Linked DNA regions of Homo sapiens. The protein of the gene in region 1 interacts with the protein of each later gene in a pairwise test. Each region holds a gene or a part of one and is shown in the gene's direction. Other genes may lie near its edges.

Region 1 (7,027 bases):
GGAAAGAACAGCGAACTGGAGTCCAGAAAACTAGAGGTCGGGTTGCATGTTTTCATTCTATGGAGCTGTGTGGCCATGGACAACCCTCATTTCAGGGGGTCTGTTTCAATATTTGCCAAATAAAAAAGTTGAACTAAACAATAACTTTTAAGCTATAATTTATGCCCTACATGCTTCTATAATATTATTAGAAAAATTCTCAGAGAGATAGATGAAGTTCCTTATAAATGGAAGCAGTTATACTTAGACCAGGATCTGGAAATAAGTTATTTACTATAATACTATATTAAATTTAGTTCTGAATTTTCTGGCAGCTGAGAAATATAGTATTTCTATTGTCTAATCAAAGGCAAGGTAGTACTTCCTTAAGGCTTTATTTGGGATTTTTTTTTTAATGCTAAAAAAATCAGCACTACTGCCATTTAATTTTTTTAAAAGAGCAAAAATTGACGCACAATCCACTACTTCAATAAATATAACTATTTTCTTTCTAGTCTTTACCAATGTGAAATTATTCAGTGGAACATTCCAAGATAAAATATTTTTGGTTTCCTGCTTTATTTCACTCAAGAAGATACAACTGTTAATCTCGTGCTACTGCAATGTTTGCGTGTTATTTTGAATGCCTGTGTAATACCAGTTGGATATACTTAGCCATTCCTTGAACATTAGGTGTTTAGTTGGTTTTCCATTTTTCATTACTACTCAGAATAAGCAATTAATATTGTAGCATTTTGCTTCTTTCAGGTAGTTTTTATTACATGAATTCCCTGGAATGAGAAGATTCCATGAAAAAGTATGAACATTGGCTGGGCAAGGTGGCTCATGCCTATAATCCCAGGACTTTGGGAGACTGAGGCGGGTGGATCACGAGGTCCAGAGATCAAGACCATCCTGGCCAACATGGTGAAACTCTGTCTCTACCAAAAATACAAAAAATTAGCTGGGCATGGTGGCAAGCACCTGTAGTCCCAGCTGCTCTGGAGGCTGAGGCAGAAGAATTGCATGAACCCAGGAGGCGGAGAATGCAGTGAGCCTAGATCGTGCCACTGCACTTCAGCCTGGTGACAGAGCGAGACTGTCTCAAAAAAAAAAAAAAAAAAAAAAAAACTGAACATCATTTACTTTTTCTAAGTTTTGACCCTTTGTTTTCCTATGAAATTGTGCTGCCTTTACTCTCTAAATGAAGATATAAATTTACTGGGAAATATTACAGAACAGCAAATCTTTTCAGTTCTAAAAGGCTCCCAATGAGTTTGTTGCAGGGGATGATTGATCTATGTGAAAGCAATGGAACATTTGATTTTGATCTGTTACTGGTATTAATGTACCTTTAGCATTTCACGGAATACAGCCTATGCAGGGATAGAAGAGCACTTACTATTGAATTGGGAATGAACTGGGCCAGAGGTCATGAGAAATAGAGTGGAATGTGTAGATGTGCAGCACGCTTCTCCTGTTGGGGAAGCTGAGGAAGTTCTGTTTATTGTTCTTCTAAGATGTTCCTGTGACTGGAACAGAGCTGGAATTACTCTGGATTGGGATAGCTGGGCTCAACTTTCCCACTATTTATGGCAGTGAGAATTTAAACGGAGCTGAGAGTTTCCTTCTTTCCTGGATCTCAAACAGCTTGGTCTCAGAGCGCAGAGCTTCCCCAAGTGTTTCCAGAGAAGACAGCCTGAGGGAGAGGAAGTGGTGCTAATTAAATCCTCCCTCTGTTTTCCAGGCACAGGAGCCTTTCGCAGATGTCTGTTGTTAGGCGTGTGTTCACAGAGTGCGCAAATACAGAAGCAGGCTTTCCTTCCCCAATGGCACAAACCTTCCTTCACAGGTTATAGAGAACTTTAGAAATGCATTTCCTTCCAACACCCACTGTGATAAAGGTGGCAGACCTGCATAAATACAGCATGTAGCTGCCAGGGACAGGAAGGTCAGAGTGCCTCCTCTGTCTGTCTTTCTTTCTCTGTCTCTGTCTCTATGTCTCTCTCTCTCTCTCACACACACACACACACACACACACACACATACACTCTTTCTCCTGCTTCTTCATTCCTTGTTTTCTCAGAGACCAATTTCTACCTTTTGCACACCTAACTTTAAAAGATCACCTAAAAGCTCAGAGACATCTTTTCTGTCATAAGGCAGATGTTGGGTGTGCTATACTGGGGGCATGGTTGGGAGGACACTTGCTGCTACGACTATTCAAGTGTGACCCTGGGTGGTTCCCATCTACTCTGTGTTCCTCAGAAAGATGGGGAAAGACTAAGTAGCTCTTCTAGGATTGCTGGAAAGATCGGATAAGAAAACATATAAAGCTTAAGAAATCATATAAAGCAAACTGCATAAGGCTTTCCACTTGTGAGTTACCTTAGCTGTGTTTTCTACATTCAAATCCTCAGGGTGAACATATATATAGAGCCACATTTGCCTGAGACTGTCCAGTTCACTCCTATCATCCTGACATAATTGTCAATAGCACCCTTTTCATGCCAAAATATCCCAAAATTAGCTAATAAATTATATGATCATACTATTTTTACCTCTTGTGAATAGCCTAGTTAATCCCAATTTCAAAAGCGGAAGCTTGCTGGGGATAGGGGCTTCTTCTCACCTTCTTTTGTTTCACAAGAACCAAGGAAATTGATTAAAAACCACTTTTGTTTAAGAACAAGGAGGTGACTCCGAGAATAATATGGCATTCCTACTTTCATGGTGAAAATGGACATGAAACTTTCTAGGTAGCATTGATAACATGCTCACTGTCAGCTTGAAAGGATTTGAGTGCACAGGCTAAGCTAACATGTGTCTTCTATTTTATTTTGCTTTGCTTTATATGTACAAAATAGAAACCAAGATATTATTTTTATTTATTTTTAAACCATGTGTGATCATTACTAGCACCCACAGACATGCAAACAAAAATAAAAATCACCTCTAACACTGTCATCTAGAGATAACTATTGTTATATTTTATTTTACTTCTTTTCAGGCCCTCTTTTTAGACATTTTTAAATCTGTTATACCATACATGTGTGCCTGTATATACATATGCAGGTACATTTCCTTCCTTCCTTCCTTCCTTCCTTCCTTCCTTTCTTCTGTCTTTCTTTCTTTTTTCTTTCTTTCTTTTTCTTTCTTTCTTTCTTTCCTTCTTTCTTTCTTCTCTTTTTTCCTTCTTCCTTTCCTTTCCTTCTTTATCTTTCTTCTCTTTCTTTCTAAATTATTTTAACAAATTGGAATAATATTATTTATAATATTTTTTAACTTACTTTTTTCCATTTATAATATATTTTGGATATTTTTCTGTGATAAAATATACACTCACACTTTCAGTGATAACATTGTATTTACAGTGCAACATATTTTATTTAGTCAACTTCTTACTGATGGATACTTATTTTATTTTATTTTTTGGTGTTAGACTCAATGTTGCATGAATGTCTAATGTTTTTACATACAGTGTTGTATGAGATATAAAGTGGTGTGTTTTTCTTTTATATATAACCTGGTATATTTTTCTATTAGATGCGGTGTTGTGATGAACAAACTTTTTTTTTTTTTTTTTTGAGACAGGGTCTTGCTCTGTTGCCTAGCCTGGAGTGCAGTGGCATGATCTTGACTCACTGCAACTTCCACTTCCTGTGCTCAGGTGAACCTCCCACCTCAGCCTACCGAGTAGCTGAGACTATGGGCACATTCCGCCATGTCTGGCTAATTTTTGTATTTTTTGTAGAGACTGGGTTTCGCCATGTTGCCCAGGCTGGTCTCAAACTCCTGAGCACAAGGGATCTACCAGCCTCAGACTCCTAGAATGCTGGGATTACAGGCATGAGTCACCATGCCCAGCTGAACAACCGTGTGTGTGTGTGTGTGTGTGCACGCGTGTATGCATGTGCGTGTGTGTGAGTCTTTGGGTATTCGTCTAATTATTTTCTTAGAATAAATTTTTAGAATTCGAATCTTTCAGTTAAAAACATGTTCAGTTCTAAGTGCTCTTATGCTCTATTATGACTCAAGAAGCACACAAGAAAATGCATTATCATTGCTTTTAACTCTTAAATAAGCTTGCAGTCTGGTGAATTTTCAACCAAAAATGCTATGCAATTTTGAAGAGAAATTGTCTGGTAATTATTTTATATAGCTCTTCTCTTGTTCAGGTTCCTGTCTCCTGGGATTAAACTCCTTTTCTCTGTCCGGAGAGTCTCTCCTTCACTTCTCTGGTAAATGACCTTGCAGGATTGTGGATGGTATTTAGAAGTCTGTGTTATGAAGCTGTATCCACCAATGCCTCTGTTTAGTTAACATGAAGGATGTTTTTAAGTTTCAGGAATTCCGTTTGCTCATCATATTCTGTTTTGCCATAGCTAGGACACAGGTACAGAGGTAACATTTTTTCAATGAGATTTTTCTGCCCTTGGTTTAGGCTGAAGAAATGTCAACAATTGGGAGTTTTGAAGGATTCCAGGCTGTGTCTCTGAAGCAAGAGGGAGATGACCAACCCTCTGAGACTGACCACCTATCGATGGAGGAAGAGGACCCGATGCCAAGACAGATTTCAAGGCAGTCAAGTGTGACCGAATCAACTCTTTACCCCAATCCTTATCATCAGCCTTATATCTCACGGAAGTACTTTGCTACACGGGTAAATTTATTGGTTCTCTTAAATACTATATAAAAATTCACCCCAAGACATCTTAAAATCCTTCTGTGTATCACATATTTACTGAGTGTACTCACATTTGTCTCATGTAATCGTCATAATAATCATGAAGTAGCTATCCTTATCCCTATTTAAAGATGAAGGATCTGAACTTTAGAGAATTTAAAGATCTATGTTTGATTCCACAGATAGTATTAAGGAGAAGTGTGTCCTCGAGCTTCCTTCTTTGGTTCCTCAGTTTGTGTTTATGCTAAACCTGATCTCAAAGAACTAGTATTCCATAAAGAGAGAACCATAGCAGCTAGAATACAAAGCTGTTAATCCAGTGAGGGTATTCATTGTTTGTGTGGAAAAGATATGGATAATGGAGTGGAGAGGGTTGCTAAGATCGCACTGACTCTCTAAAGTTTACGATGGGATGCTCATATTACAACGAGGGAGCAGGTAGCTTTAAATCTCAAACCTACAGCGACCAGCTGGAGCTGAGCTCTCTTACCTGTGCAATGGAGCTGGGAAAGTAAATGGATGGGTAAGTAAGCAGGAGGGAGCTTGTATATCTGGATGTTAAAAAAGCAGTATTTTTAACTTTTAGCATTTGATTCAAGTGGAGAGTGCTTCATAGGTTTCTAGTACCTTTCCCTCTTGAGCTCTTCTTCCTACTTATAGATCCTCTTTCCAATCCTTCAACATTCTTATTAGCACAGTCATGGTTAGCTTAGAGGTTACAATCAATTGGGGGCAAAATCAGGGAGTTTACACTATGGCAACAGAGAACATCTCATTTTCATGTGTACGTGGGAGATCTTTTTGGAAAAAAAATGTATTTCAACTCATTCTCATAAAAAATTGGGGCCAGGGTTTTGTGACTTTTCCAAAGCTTTAATTAATAAATCCTGATTTGGTTGCTTTCAAAAGATATCTTTGGTTTAGGTAAAGTTTTAACTAAAGCAACTTAACGAGTGTGTGTGTGTGCCTGTGTGAGTCTGTGTTTAAACACTGCATATACTCTTATGTGCAAGATGCTTTAGTAGGTGCGATACTATATGTGTGTTTGTGTGAGTGTTTCTGCATATGTAGAGCATATGGTTTGTTTTCCGAAGTATGTGAACTTTATTGAATATGCAAAGTTAAGCTGTGTGATATAGCTGCAAAGGAAATCAAAGCATCTCTTGGAGTTGTGCTATCTTTGATATTGATGATGTAGGGTTTGATGATAGAAGAACACACTGCGATATAGAATAAAGATTTATTGCTGGGAGCTGATGCAATTATGAGAGCTGGCTGGGACTATGGAAAGTTGTTTTCTCTGAATCTGGTGTTGGGCCTGAAGTTAGAATAGGCCAATCAGTTGGCAGTTGTGAAGAGGAAATAGGGAAAAAGGAATAGGAAAAAATTGCATGGACAAACTGGAATGTCTGGTGACAATGTTTAACTTATGAGGAAAAACTGGAACCTATGTCTGTCTCCCACCAAGTCTAACCTTGATGGTGTGAGGTCACTTTTAGAAGCTAGTGCTTTCATTACTGAGCTACACACTTAACTAGCCCAGGGAGAGGAAAGTCTTAGAAAAAAAGCCTGACTGTGATGGAAGGAGACGCAGGTACAGGGGCTACCCCTTGCCGTTAAGTAAACCAGGATAACAGTTGCCATGAACATGAGTTGTCACAGTGCATGGTGACCTGCACTGATCTTCAACAGGGAAAACGACTTATGTTTCAATTCTACCTTTTGAATATTACACAGGTGTCTCTTGTTGCCAGCCCTAATTTGGAAACACACACAAAAAAGCAATTCTAGAAAATGTAGTTTCAGCTCAGCTAAATTGACAGAGTCCAAATCCACTACACATGATGATTGTATTGGTGTTGTACCATGTAGCTTATACAGCAAACTCACATCCTTTATCTGTTTGATTCCCCAGAGCAATACTGGGAGGCAGGCAGGAGAGGGCTTAACATCCGTGTTTTAAAGATGAACATATTGAAGTTTGAGAAAAATGAAGTGACCTGTCCAAATCATATAATGTTAGTGGAAGGGCTGCAGCTAGATTCCGGGTCTTGATTCTGGAACTTCTTTCTCCAAGTCCAATACTTTCCTGACCACGCACAGTAGAATTTATGGCTCCTTTATAAGTGTTTTCAATGACTGATTCCAATCAATGCGAAGAATATCTTTTTCATTAGGTGTATCGAAAACAATCTTAAGTTCTCAAAAGCTTGTGAGGGATCTAAAGTAAACCTGAAGACTCTGGGAACCAATAGGGAGATTTTCCCAAGATACTCAGTGTTTGCCCTCCTTCAGACCAACAAACATAGTATGAAGAGCTCTTATTGCCATGTGAGTAAAATAAATGTGCATTCACACACA
Region 2 (7,027 bases), on another chromosome or scaffold:
GAGACTCCTGCAGTCATTTGGGGAGAGGATGGTGGCTGAGATGGTAGTGGTGGAGTTCAGGACATGTGCTCATATTTGGGATATTTCTGAAGATAGAGCTGACGGTATTTATTGATTGAATGTGGGCTAAGGGGAAGAGAGGAATCAGATGAGCCTAAGGCTTTTGGCCTGAGCAACTAGGAGAGTAGTGGAGCCATTTGCTGGGATGGGAAGTAGGAAGAGGAGCAGGCTTGGATGAAATGGGGGTGTGGAAAACACGAGTCAGTTTCAGACACTCTAGATGTGAGTGAGATGCCTGATATTAGATATCTAAGGGAAGAAGAGGTTAGGTAGGCATTGGATATTCTTCTGGAGTTCACATGAATCAGAGCCGGGGCATATATTGGGAAGACATCAGCTTACAGAAGGCATTTGAAGGAATGAGAATGCATTAGGTCAGGTAGGAGTCTCAACTCATTGGATCTGACACCTCTTTTTTATTACAAATATTTTGTAACAGTCCCTTTTATTACCCTAAAATGAAACATATGATTAATAAAAACTGCCTACACATAATTTTTTAAAAATCAACAAATGCAGCCGGGCGCGGTGGCTCACGCCTGTAATCCCAGCACTTTGGGAGGCAAGGCGGGCGGATCACCTGAGGTTGGGAGTTCAAGACCAGCCTGACCAACATGGAGAAACCCCATCTCTACTAAAAATATAAAAAATTAGCCGGGTGTGGTGGTGCATGCCTGTAATCAGTCCCAGCTACTAGGGAGCCTGAGGCAGGAGAATCGCTTGAACCTGGGAGGCGGAGCTTGTGGTGAGCCGAGATTATACCATTGCACTCCAGCCTGGGCAACAGGAGCGAAACTTCGTCTCAAAAAAAAAATAAAATAAAATATAAATAACCATGCCCTATAACATAAAAGGAAAGTAATTGATAGTAAAACAAAATATGTTTCAATATGTAAGTTTCTGGGCACAATAGTGCTGGAAGTTGCAGTGAAGCTGTCCCTTCTGTGTGGACCCTCTAGGAGTGTGATGGCCACAGACACAGACTGACACAGCCGTGTTGTGTCGCACCTCGAAAACCACTAGTGCCATTGCTGTAGATGATGTGGTTTTTCCAGAATGGACACTTTTGGTGCCATTTTGAGACCAATTTTGACCATTTTCAGTCTCCCTTCATTGTACATAGGCGTCTTATTCTTGGAAGTGTTAGTTCACAGCAGAACCATGGAAACACTGCACTGTGTTTACATGTAAACAGAGTTACATTCTAGGTTCAGATAATTATAAGCTAATCTTTCACCTATATGGATGTCAAAGTCGTGCGGGATGCAGAGCAGTAATTGGCTATGTGGACTGCCCCTTCTTTATCCCTGCTTACTGAACGCCAGGAGCATATCCCCAAAATACCGCCACAGGTTTCCAAAGCTCCTCTGAAGACAACTGTAGCCCCAGAGATTCATTTGGACACAGCCAGCTCCCTGTTTGCCCCGGGGAGGGGAAATAGTAACAAGAGTTCCAGAGTGCAGAATGGAATGTAACTGCTCCCTTCAGAAATGTTGGGGTGGGAGATGGAGAATGTGTCTGATCGTGAAGCCTAGGAAGGCTTCGAGAAGAAGGTGGCGTTTCAATAGGATGGGAATGTCTCAAAGGAGGATCTGTGGTTGAGGGGGGCACCCAGATGAAGCAGCAGGTATCATCACATAACACTGGACCTGAGGCTCCTCCAGGCACAGACAGGTCTACCCGGCATGCTCCGGGCACTCATCAGGGTTGGCTGGATTGACAGGGAGGCTGGGAGTGGTTTCATTTGGCAATACCGTAAGGCAGGCTCTGCTTCCAGGGAGTAGTGGTTACAGCCTGGTCTTACAGTGTTCCAGCCGTTAGAGTGTTGGTTTCCTTCTCCATTTTTAACCCCTAAAGACCAGACCAGTCCCCTGAAAATCGCATGCCTGCTCTCTGTCAGTCATCAAACCAGACGGAGAACTTAAAGTACACCAGCTGTGCGTAAGGCCAGTGTGGTCTTACTGGTCCCTATCTTTGTGCCGCTCGTAGCCTCTCAGGGGACAGACATTACTCAAATCACACCCTGCACAAGTGCTATGAAAGAGAAGTAGGAGAGCCGTGAAAGCAACATGTATCTCAGGGGACTGATTCAGGGGATGGGGTGGGGTTCCCTGAAGAAGTGACCTCTGAGCTGAAGATAGGTAGGATTGATGAAGGACTGAAGGGTGGGTGCAGTGTTCGTTCATTTCCTTCAGACAACGGGAAGAAAGCTGGTGTGTTTGGGGAGCTGAAAGGCGCCCAGTGGGGCCAGGTCCTGGAGAGCCTGTGGCTGAGACTGGGAAGACCAGCAGGGCCAGATGAGGCCATGGGAGCCGAAAGAAGGGTGCTGGTCTTTATCAGAAAAGCACTGGAAGCTGCTGAAGGGTTTTAAGCAGTGGCCTGACATGATCAGTTTGTGTTTTAAAAGGTCACTTTGGTGGCAGTTCATGGAGAATAGCTTGAGGTGACAAGACAGCAGACACGACGTGGGTCTCTGGGACTGCCTGTGCCGTTGTGGGCAGCCCCTCCAGAGCCCTGAGTCACGCAGCCTTCAGAGGCACCCATGGCTACGAGAAGCACAGTCTCTGCCTGAGGCTCCAGAGCGGCCCTTTTTCCCCAGCAGCAGACCTTGGGACCTGTGAGCGCTGCATCCAATTAACCATGGGAAGGGTCAGCACCAGCCACCAGCCCCTTAGGTGAGGACTCTGCCTGGGGCTCTGCTGATGGTTCCGAATCATGGAGCTGCAGAGAGCTCCTCCAGCCTGGAGACGTTCTTGGTGAAAGCTGTGGTCTAACTCCACCGGCTCTTCCTGCACATTGTATTCAAGAGGGGTGCCTGCCCCCGCTGACTCAGGAGCTCCGGTGCTGCAGCCGCCACGAATGGGGAGGTGGGCCCTCGATGTGGCCTTTTTGTGGAAGGCGGTGTTGACCCTGGGGCTGGTGCTTCTCTACTACTGCTTCTCCATCGGCATCACCTTCTACAACAAGTGGCTGACAAAGGTACCAGGAGGCCTTGCTGGGGCGGGGTGCTGGGATGAAGGTGGCCAGAGCCATGGCTACGGTGCCCTTCATGTTTAACAGGAAGGCACAAGCTTCAACCAGTCTAACTGGAAGCCAGTCACGGCTGGGCTGGAACAGGGCCCTCCAAGCCTGCCGTGCCAGGGTTCCCCTTCAGTGTTTGGATCCAGGGAAACCAAGGAGAGCGGGGGGTGTGAAGGGATGAGCTGGGGAAACTGGGGCTCAAGCAGCAGCTATTTACCCCACTAGAGAAGTATTTCAATATTTTAATAAGTGATACAACGTAGTGGGCCGCAGTGGCTCTCACTTGGGCATAGGCCGTGAGGAAGGCTGGGCAGGTAGCTCACAGGTGTGTTGAAATGGTGGAGACAGCACCAGGCTAGGATTGAGTCTCTTGGCTGCCACCTGTCTTCGTGACCTAAGAGTCTGTCATTCCAAGCGATGATACCGTAACTAAGGGCCCTACACACATAGCAAGGTCCTCATGAACCACCGAATGAGCCCCACTCCAGCAGAGGGGCGAAGAGGAAGAGGGAGCCGGTGGGGGGCAGGCTGTCTAAACCAAGCCGGGGTGTCTGCTTTGGGCTCCATACAGAGCTTCCATTTCCCCCTCTTCATGACGATGCTGCACCTGGCCGTGATCTTCCTCTTCTCCGCCCTGTCCAGGGCGCTGGTTCAGTGCTCCAGCCACAGGGCCCGTGTGGTGCTGAGCTGGGCCGACTACCTCAGAAGAGTGGCTCCCACAGGTAGGTGGGGGACCTCAGTGAGGGCAGAGCAGGAAGAGGGGCTGGGGAACCATAGGATGAGAACAAGAGAGACACCCGCATGTCTGGAAGCCAAGTCCCTCCCCTCTTCCTGCACTGTTCCTCCTCTGCCCTCTTGACCTGGCCTCCCACCACCCACGCTGCTGCCTCTTGTGCACTGCGTGCCTTCCCACTGCCCCACCACACACCCACAAAACCCCCCCTGCACCTGCGGCCCCGCAGCTCCCTCTCCTGCCAGCAGACACCGAGCCTGGAGTGCAGCCCTCAGGCCTGGAGATAAGTGGTGAGCAGGCAGGGTCCCTGCCCTCGCAGGGCTGTGACACGGACATGGAGGGCACTACGGAGCCCAGGGAGGGGACCAACCCAAGGCCGGGGCCCATGGCTGGTAGAGGAAGATTTCCTAGGCCAGGTGCCAAGTAGGCAGAGCCCTGAAGGATGCGTGGGACTGGTTGGCCCTGGGAGGAGGGGCCCTCGTGGCCCGAGGGAGATTTAGTGCCAGCTGTGGGGTCTGGAAGGGAACTCAAAGTGTTTCAGGATACTGAGAACCCGGTGCTGGCCAGAGGAAGTGGGAAAAATGAGAACTGAGAGGGTGGGCAGGGGTCATGTCCTGGAGGCCGGATTCCCCGTGGAGGAGTTTGTGTTCCATCCTGAGGGAAAAGGGTTTCCAGTAAGGGATCAACCAGATCAGGTTAATACCTCCGCTCAGGGGGCTCGCCGGAGTGTTTGTGGAAACCATACCGGCCCAGCCAGTTGGAATGGGCCCCAGCCCTAATGCTAGAGCAGCCCCCGACCTTTGGGGGCCAGATATTAACCCTTTAGTTGCTGGTGGAAAAGAAGGCCCAAGGGCCCCACAGGAGGCACCGGGATGGTTCAGAAGTGGGGGACACTCAGGTGCCTCAGGGTACCAGCCCACCCCAGCAGAGTGTGGACCTCCCAAGCTGTCCTGTGGGTGCCTGTGTCTTCACAGCTCTGGCGACGGCGCTTGACGTGGGCTTGTCCAACTGGAGCTTCCTGTATGTCACCGTCTCGCTGTGAGTACTGGCCATGCCCTGCTGCCTCCCTTCAGGCTGAAGCTGTCTGTCTGTCCAGCGGGGTGTCTGCACACCCGGCTGCTAGGCCAGCCACTCCACCACTCTGGGACCAGCCCTTGCTCTCTCAGCCTCTCCCTGGCACCCAGCAGCTCTCCGGGAAGTCGCCAGCCTCTTCCGTAAGCCCAGCGCAGAGGAGATGCTGTGCCCACCTGCCAGGCAGCGTGGGGAAGCCAGGGAGCTCTCCCAGAACCCCATCATCAGAGCAGGGGAAGGCAGGCTGCAAGGCCACAGACAGGTGGCCACTGGTGGGTGGTACACGCAGCCGCAGCAGAGCCCTATGTGGCCTGGGGGCTACACAAGAGTTTCTTCTTCCCTCTGATGTTTTGCTTCAGAGAGCACTGTTCCTGCCTTCTTGTCCTCCTACTTCTCATCCTTCCTTCCCGCTCCTGGGCTCTGCCGAGGGTTAGGTAAAGAACAGGACTCAGGGAGCTCAACGTCAGACCTGTAACCTCTTCTCTCTGGTGATAACCAGAGGCCTCTTAGTCAGAGATTCCTTCTGATTAAAGGTCGCTTATCACTCAGATGACAGCCCAGCTCTGTTTGGTCATTTCGCTCAGTGATTTGTGCTCCTGCTCCTTTCTCGGTGATGGGTCTGAGCCCTGAGCTCCAGCAGTGCATTGTGGGTAATTTTGCTTCCAGGTACACAATGACCAAATCCTCAGCTGTCCTCTTCATCTTGATCTTCTCTCTGATCTTCAAGCTGGAGGAGCTGGTGAGGCCCCAGCGTCTCTTGTGTCCTTCCTGCCCCCACAGATGCTAAGAATAAAGTGGGAGTCTGAGCAGTGGCTTGTCCTGCTGTGTGACAGAGGAGACAAGCCCAGTCCAGGTGGCAGTAGATCCCTTTCTGAGAAGGGACCTAGACATGGGCAATACTCAGAATATTTAGAAACCAGTGTGGCAGGGTAATGACCAAAGGTGAAAGCACTGCAGGATGAGGGTCCCAGCAGAGCTGGGTCTAGGAAGCACCCTGCTGTGGGAGGCAGTAGCCCTGTGTGTTAGGCCCAGGGAGGAGGTGGGACCACTTGGGGGCCTAGGACAGCCGTCAGTGTGGCAGAGCAAGCAGGGCTGTTGGCATACCAGCTGACCGTCAGCCCTACATGCTGACATTGGTGGGCAAGGACTGTCCAGGACCCCCTGGGATGGAGCTGAAGGGTGGAAGGATTTCTTGCCCCAGGGGCAGCCAAGATGGCTGCTGACCCCAGGCTCCAAATGTGATGAACCCTTGACCCTCAAGACCCCCGAGTTAGCTGCCACTGCTCCCCATCCTACCAGCGCGCGGCACTGGTCCTGGTGGTCCTCCTCATCGCCGGGGGTCTCTTCATGTTCACCTACAAGTCCACACAGTTCAACGTGGAGGGCTTCGCCTTGGTGCTGGGGGCCTCGTTCATCGGTGGCATTCGCTGGACCCTCACCCAGATGCTCCTGCAGAAGGCTGAACTCGGTGAGCACGTGCCACTCATCCTCCAGAGAGAGGAACCCCGGCACAGGCAGGGCGGAGGCAGGGCAGGGCCGGACCAGACCTGATGGTGCCTGTCCCCCGCCCTGCAGGCCTCCAGAATCCCATCGACACCATGTTCCACCTGCAGCCACTCATGTTCCTGGGGCTCTTCCCTCTCTTTGCTGTATTTGAAGGTACGTTGGGCCTTCCCTCTCAAGGGCACCTCAGTGCAGCAGACCACAGATCCTCGCCCTGAGCCCAACACAGTGGTAGCTGCAGAGATTATTGAGATCAAAGATGCAGTCCCTCCCCTGGAAGCGCATGGTTTGGGGTCCAGCATGATAAACGCTACAGAGAAAGCACATATAAAATTCAGGGAACAGTAACAGTAAGTGTGCACAGAGCCCTGAAAGTGCACCAGGGCTGTTCTGATCTTTTTAAACATAGGAACTCATTTCATCCTTCCAAAAACCTGGTGTGGCAGTACTATTATTATCCCCCATTTTGCAGGTAGAACAAAATGAGGCCCAGAGAAGTAAAGATAACTTGCCCAAGGTCCCATAGCTCGTAAATGAGCCAGAATTTGAAGCCAGCAGCCTGGCTCCAAGTGGTCCAGCCCTACTCTTAACCACCCTATCTTGCCTCTAAGGAATGGGGAATCAGGGATTGTTCCAAGA
Region 3 (7,027 bases), on another chromosome or scaffold:
CCTGGGAGGCGGAGGTTGCAGTGAGCTGAGATCGTGCCACTGCTCTCCAGCTTGGGTGACAGAGCGAGACTCCATTTCAAAAACAACAACAATAAAAGCCCAAAAACACAACAAAAAAGTAACATTATTATAACCGTTCTGTAAATGCCAAGCCGACTCATAGCAGCTTACCAAGGCACACAGATGGTAAGAGGAAAGGCTGAGATTTGAACCCAGGTCTCTCTAGTGCTAATGTCCATGCTCTTTCTATCTCATTGAACTGTTTGCTTTATACCATGGAGCTCCTCAGGCCATCTGGGCACTGCCCTTTGCTAGCAAAGGAGCTCCAAGCAACATGTTATTTCCCCTAGAGCCTGGCAGCGCTTAGATGTCCAGAGTGGGGACTCTAATCCTCTAAAGTCCAGCCTGTACCTTAGCCATTTGCTCAGAGACTCTAGTCACTTGAGGGTGAGCACATTTGAGAAACGGTGGGGTCTGTAAGAACAAAGAGTCTTAAGAGATCATGCTGGCTGGTTGTCTGGGGAAAGGAAAGATAGAAAAAACCCACAGATTTCTAGCAACATTGCTGAGGCAAACCGAAAACAGTCTAGGCTATTACCAGTTAGAAATGTTTGATAAAGAAAGCATCATTTTGGCCGGGCGCGGTGGCTCTCGTCTGTAATCCCAGCACTTTGGGAGGTCGAGGCAGGCAGATCATGAGGTCAGGAGATCGAGACATCCTGGTTAACATGGTGAAACCCTGTCTCTACTAAAACTACAAAAAATTAGCCGGGCATGGTGGCGGGTGCCTGTAGTCCCAGCTACTCAGGAGGCTGAGGCAGGAGAATGGCGTGAACCTGGGAGGCGGAGCTTGCAGTGAGCCGAGATCACGGCACTGCCCTCCAGCCTCGGCGACAGAGCGAGACTCCATCTCAAAAAAAAAAAAACAGAATAGAACAGAGAATGGAGGAGAGACAGTGTTCAGAGACAGAACGGCTGAGGGAGGGATGACTCTTCAGATTCAAGAAGCATAATATGCCCTGAGCAGGATGAATAAAATACATCTACACCTAAACACCAAGCATCTTTAAAGTGATAAATGGCAGCTACTAAGAGACCCTACAGCAAATATCATCTATGTGTTGAAACCTCAAGTGCCTGTAATATCAGGGACATATCAAGGAGACTGCCTCTCCCTGTTTCTATCAATATTGTGTTGGAAATCCTAGGTGAAGACCAAGTAAATACAAGGAAGAAAAAGACTTGGAAAGGAAGAAACTAAATTATCATTATCTATACCTACTATTTACATAGGATACCTAAGAGAATCTACAAAAATACTATTAGGACAAGGAAGAATATTCCACAAAATTGTTGATAGAAATCAAAATATAAAAATCACCTATATTCCAGCAACAAATTTAGTAACAAATTTAAATATTTAAAATATTAAAATGCTTTTAAAGTTACAATAGCAAGAAGTACTCCCCAGTTCCGGGGATAAATTTGACAAAAATATACAAGACATTTAAAGAAAAAGTTAGAAACCTTTACTGAAAGACTTTAAACGTAACTAGATGGAGAGTAAAACCTCACAATTGTAAACAATTTTCTCCCAAATTGATCTTCAAATTCAATGAAATCCCAATCAAAATGCCCATTAGATTTCTCAAAGAACTTAATAAGCTGATATTAAGTCACATGGAAGGCTAAGTAGCCAAAAATAGTCTTAACCAAGGGACAGCCAGATAATAAGTGTTTTAGGCTTTGCAGGCGCCATAGGTCCCTGTCATGTATTGTTCTTCTATTTGTTTGCAAACAACCATCCTTAGCTCTTAGGCCACAGTTTGCCCACCCTCGGTCTAAACCATTTCAAAGAAAGAGCAGTAAATTTGCAAGAGGTTGGTAGGATTTGTCTTATCGGAGATGAAGGTTTCCTTTGTTTTCTTTTTTTTTTTTTGAGACAGAGTCTCGCTCTGTTGCCCAGGCTGGAGTGCAGTGGCGCGATCTCGGCTCACTCCAAGCTCTGCCTCCCAGGTTCACGCCATTCTCCTGCCTCAGCCTCCCGAGTAGCTGGGACTACAGGCACCTGCCACCACGCCTGGCTAATTTTTTGTATTTTTTTAGTAGAGACGGGATTTCACCATGTTAGCCAGGATGGTCTCAATCTCCTGACCTCGTGATGCACCCGCCTTGGCCTCTCAAAGTGCTGGGATTACAGGTGTGAGCCACTGCGCCCAGCCAGATGAAGGTTTCTTACAGAGCTATCAGAATACAGAGTTTGTGATACTGCACAGGCATACGAAATGGACAAACAAAACAAAAAGCCACCAATCAGGTTAATGCATGTAGGAAAACCTGATATGTGAGAGAGATGACGTTACAGTGATTGAAGGAAGAATGAACTGCCCAGTAAGTGGTCTAGGGAAAATTCCTAATCTATATAGAAACAAAGAAAAACACAAAACAAAATTAGATTCCCCATCTCTCATACTAAACCAAAATAAATTATGAGGGGATTTAAACACAAAGTAAAATGTCAAACTTGAAAATTCCATTAAGGGAATATAAGAGACTCTCTTTATCACCATGCAATAGAGAGGATTTCCCAAATAAAATACAAAAGGCACAAATCCAAGAGGAAAAATAATTTTGATCACATTATATGTAAAGAATCAGCTGTTCATTAGAAGACTCCATAAGCAAAATTCCTAGACAAACAAGAGATTGGGAGAAATTGTCAAAACATGAAAGCATCAAAGGAAAATCAATGAGAAAAAGACAAAGATCTCAGAAGAACTGGAAAGCAGATGAACAAATTTCAGAAGCAGAAACCCAAATAGCCTGTAAACATGTGAAACAACTATAAAATATAATTTCACAGCTGTCATTTTGACCAACATTTTATTTTATTTTTGAGACATGGTCTCACTGTTGCCAGGCTGGAGTGCAGTGGTGCAATCATGGCCTCGACCTCCCAGGCTCAGGTGATCCTCCCACCTCAGCCTCCCAAGTAGCTGGGACTACAGGCACGTGCCACCATGCCAGGCTAGTTTTTTGTATTTTTTGTAGAGACAGGGTTTCACCATGTTGCCCAGGCTGGTCTTGAACTCCTGGGCTCAAGCAATTTTCCTGCCTTGGCCTCCCAAAGTGCTGGGATTAGAGGCATGAGCCTTGGCCAACATAATAATCTAACTAAATGCTGAAGACAACCTGGATAAATGAGAAGCTATACACTCCTGGTGGGTGTTCGTGTACATATATGGGGGAAATGATTATTTTAATCTGCAGAAAAGGTTGTTTTTCTCTTGAGAAACACAGCAGAAGGAAATGCAGAGCTGTTCTGTAGATCCTTGCTCCTGTGCCCTGCTCCTTCCCCATCTTGTGTTCCCACGCTGGGCACTGAAGCTCTGATTCCCTTTCCCTGTGTCCTCTATAGGTCTGACTACCTTGCCATCCCATCTGAGAACAAGGAGAACTCTGCGGTACCAGTGGAGGAATAGAACAGGAGCAGTGTGACATGAGGTGACCTACAGGAACATGGGAGGGGAAGGCAGATGTGGATGGCAGGTTGTACAAGTGACTTTGTTGCCCACAACTGAAGTGACTTTAAATTTGGTCCCTTAGGTCACTGTCTACCCTGCCTGGGGTCCCCGCCCTCAGGGTAATTCTTTAAGTCAGAAAGCTCTGTATGATGTCAGCGCTTCGGAAGGTGAACTGCTTTGACCTGAGTGTCGAGGCAATCTGAACTTGCCCATGGTAACAGAGGCACAGGATTCTCCAACTCCCTTCTTTGGTCAAAGAATTTTTGGGCTGGGCTGGGCTGGACTGGGTGGGAAATTCTCAGTGAGTTATTTTATCTTTGGTAGGTGGCCTGAACACCTGAGGGACTGGACATCCCATGTTCAGCAATGTCAATGGCATCAGGAGGGCGCCCCAAGGGCCCCATCGCTTCCCTTCATGCATCCATTGTTCTGTTCATTCATTCATCCATACATCCACCTGCCTCTGAGCTTTCACCTCTGACTCCCTAACTCCATCAGACCTCTACGCACCATAAGACTCTGCCAGAACTGAGAAGCCAACATTTCTACATAGACTCAACCTCACCCTCTCCTAGTTTTCCAACAAGACACTCCAAAGCCAACTGGATTTCTCCCCTGTGCTCCAAATGACTTTGTACAAGTGCTGGAGTTAGCACCTCCCTCTGCCCTTAACTGGCTGGAACTGGTTCATTCTCCATTACTGCAAGAGAATGGAAGTCTTAATAGAAGGAAGCAGGAGTGATTAGTTCGGGTTAAAGCAAAAGTGTGTCATGAACTTGGATTCCCTGAAGTCAGTTTTGTCAGGTTCATGGCCCACTTTGCTACAGCATCAGAGTGAAGCACGCCTGTCTAGGTTCTCCAGTGACAGAAAGATCCTGAAGCATGGACTAACATGCTCTCTGGAGCTTAGTACTCCAGAGCTAGATCCTGATGGGTCTCTAAGGTTCCCTCCAAGAAGACAAGGACAGGAGACTTGGGAAGGACCAATGGTAATTTAAGTGGCTCTTAAAAAGTCATGCAACATGTTTCTGGACACGTTCCTGATCCTATTGCGATAATGTATGTGTGCCCTCCCTGTGGGCACACCACCTGGGCATTAGGACTGAAATTCCTGAGTTCTTCCTCTCAAAATTTCTGTGCACCAGTATTATTCCTCATTTTACATACAGGAGGCAACTAAGACTCATACAGGGCTCAACTGAATAAGAGGCTTAAGAGGATAAACTGGAGCAGAAATAAGCCTTAGGTGCTGCCCAGTTTACACTTCCTGGGATGGATGTTTTTGTTTGTTTTGTTTTTTGTTTTTTTTGTTTGAGATGGAGTCTCACTCTGTCACCTAGGCTAGAGTGCAGTGGTGTGATCTCGGCTCACTGCAACCTCTGCCTCTTGGGTTCAAGCAATTCTCATGCCTCGGCCTCTCCAGTAGCTGGGATTACAGGTGTGCACCACCACGCCTGGCTAAATTTTGTATTTTTAGTACAGACAGGGTTTGACTATGTTGGCCAGGCTAGTCTTGAACTCCTGACCTCAAATGACCCACCCACCTCAGCCTCCCAAAGTGCTGAGATTACAGGCGTGAGGCACTGCGCCCGGTGGATAACTTTGTTTCTGAAAAGACTGACATTGAACTTGTCTATGGCAATGCTTCTTTCACAAGCACGGACTGGGCTGAGGTCAACTCTGATAGATTCAGATGACTAGAAATTGGCCAAAAAAGCAGGGAGAAGAACATGAGGTAGACTTAAAGAACTTCCTTTATGTAAAGATCTGTGACTCTGAAATATCCTCCAAAAGGAGAGTGCATCTGAGACTGATATTTAAACTAAGAAAAATGTTTAGTCTGAGATGGATCATAAGTAAATGAGCAGTGTGAGAGGGGAGGGATGGGTAGGTGCTTTCCAAATACTTCGCCTATGAATGCATAATTTTCAGATTTTTTTCCCCTAGATTTTGAGGGAGCAGAGAAACTGGAAAAAACTTTAGTCAATATCTCGTGTTTCATTTTAATTAAGTGACAGGTCCAAGTGTGACATCCTTCAGCACCCAGGGACAAGAGAGGGGAAAGATGCTTTATGGAATGTAAGAAGATGAAGGTGACTGGGATTCAGCGAGAGAGAGGTCCCTCAGACCTGGGACCTCCCTTTATAGGGAAAGACCATATTCCATAGGTTTAGGGCTTTACCTTAAAAGCTCATTTTTTTCATTCTTCCATCCCTAGGAAAGTACTTAAAACCAGACTTTTAAATTTTTATTTATTTATTATTATTTTTTTGAGACAGATTCTCACTCTGTCTCCCAGGCTAGAGTGCAGTGGTGCAATCTCAGCTCACTGCAGCCTCAACTGCCCCAGGTTTAAGCAATCCTCCCACCTCAGCCCCCAGGTAACTGGGACTACAGGCATGCACCACCATGCCTGGCTAATTTTTGTATTTTATGTAGAGACAGGGGTCTTGCCATGTCGCCCAGGCTGATCTTGAACTCCTGGGCTCAAGCAATCTGCCAGCCTCAGCCTCTCAAAGTGCTGGGATTACAGGCCTGAGCAACTGTGCCTGGCCCAAAACCAGACCGTTAACACATTAAAGAGTCTGATTTTGTTGAAGAAAATATTTGCAATAAATTCAAGACTCTTCTTATTGGTAATTTTCCACACAATCCCTCTGAAATAAGGGAGAGGATATAGACCTTTTTAACTTTATAGTTAGAAAAATTGGCCTCAGTGTGAAATTTTTCCAGTCCCATAGCTCATGGATGCCACCAGCTTGCGGTAGTAGCAAGATGCTTACTACCACACCGTTTTCCTCGGTGGCCCAATAGCTCGTGTATCTAAGTTGAACCCGGCAGTATGCATGATTGCCTTTTTCTCTTCTTTTTAAAAAAACCCAACTCAGATGCTGCTTGCGTGGCTTTTAATGAAGCTGAATGGTATCTATCACTTATTTATCCTTGACAGGTTATCTTCCCCACTCTTCCTTTTTCTAACTTCTCCATTCTTCTCATTCTTGACACTTTCATTAGAACTATATGGTTTACGAAGTATTTTCACTTAACTATTTTATTTCTTCTCTATAACTGGTCCTGTGAGGTCACATTACAAAAGAAGAAACTGAGGGTCTCTGAGGTTAAGTAGCTTTACTAAATTATAAGGAAACCTAGCTGGTAGGTAGACAGCAAGAATCCAGGTCTTCTGACTCCTCTTTCAGTTCTCTTTCCACTTAGACCATAGCTGCTTCCTTTTCTTATTTTTTAGCTTCCATCTAACCATTGCCTATCTTGCCTGTCCTAATGTTCTCCATCTTCTCTCACCCCTAATCCCACTCACTGCTTCTCTACCACTTTGCTTTTTGGTGGATGCTAGCAATGTGCTTTGAGAGTCAGTCCTATTTTGGTTCTCTTTCTAGTTGGTTTGTACATCATTATTTCTCCTGAATTGCAATTAAACTCCTTCCTGGGAGATTTGATAATGACTGTAAATCAATAAGGTACTGTGATCACCAGCCTACTTC

Evidence for each region. The genes of interacting proteins can lie anywhere in the genome.
Region 2: the proteins of TPRG1 (region 1) and SLC35H1 interact in binary tests that used the Homo sapiens proteins (3 or more experiments, as listed by UniProt).
Region 3: the proteins of TPRG1 (region 1) and SCN3B interact in binary tests that used the Homo sapiens proteins (3 or more experiments, as listed by UniProt).

What each region holds. Positions count from the first base shown.
Region 1 is NC_000003.12:189,202,953-189,209,979, forward strand, and holds part of TPRG1 (tumor protein p63-regulated gene 1 protein), read left to right. Parts: intron 1-4,423; coding exon of another isoform or gene 4,424-4,432; coding exon 4,433-4,642; intron 4,643-7,027.
Region 2 is NC_000020.11:46,354,399-46,361,425, reverse strand, and holds part of SLC35H1 (solute carrier family 35 member C2), read left to right. Parts: intron 1-2,467; exon of another isoform or gene 2,468-2,662; 5' UTR 2,663-2,700; coding exon of another isoform or gene 2,701-2,735; 5' UTR 2,736-2,867; coding exon of another isoform or gene 2,868-2,919; coding exon 2,920-3,039; intron 3,040-3,652; coding exon 3,653-3,803; intron 3,804-4,788; coding exon 4,789-4,852; intron 4,853-5,551; coding exon 5,552-5,624; intron 5,625-6,184; coding exon 6,185-6,353; intron 6,354-6,460; coding exon 6,461-6,544; intron 6,545-7,027.
Region 3 is NC_000011.10:123,630,598-123,637,624, reverse strand, and holds part of SCN3B (sodium channel regulatory subunit beta-3 precursor), read left to right. Parts: intron 1-3,418; coding exon 3,419-3,482; 3' UTR 3,483-3,504; intron 3,505-3,848; 3' UTR 3,849-7,027. UniProt on the Homo sapiens protein: Regulatory subunit of multiple voltage-gated sodium (Nav) channels directly mediating the depolarization of excitable membranes.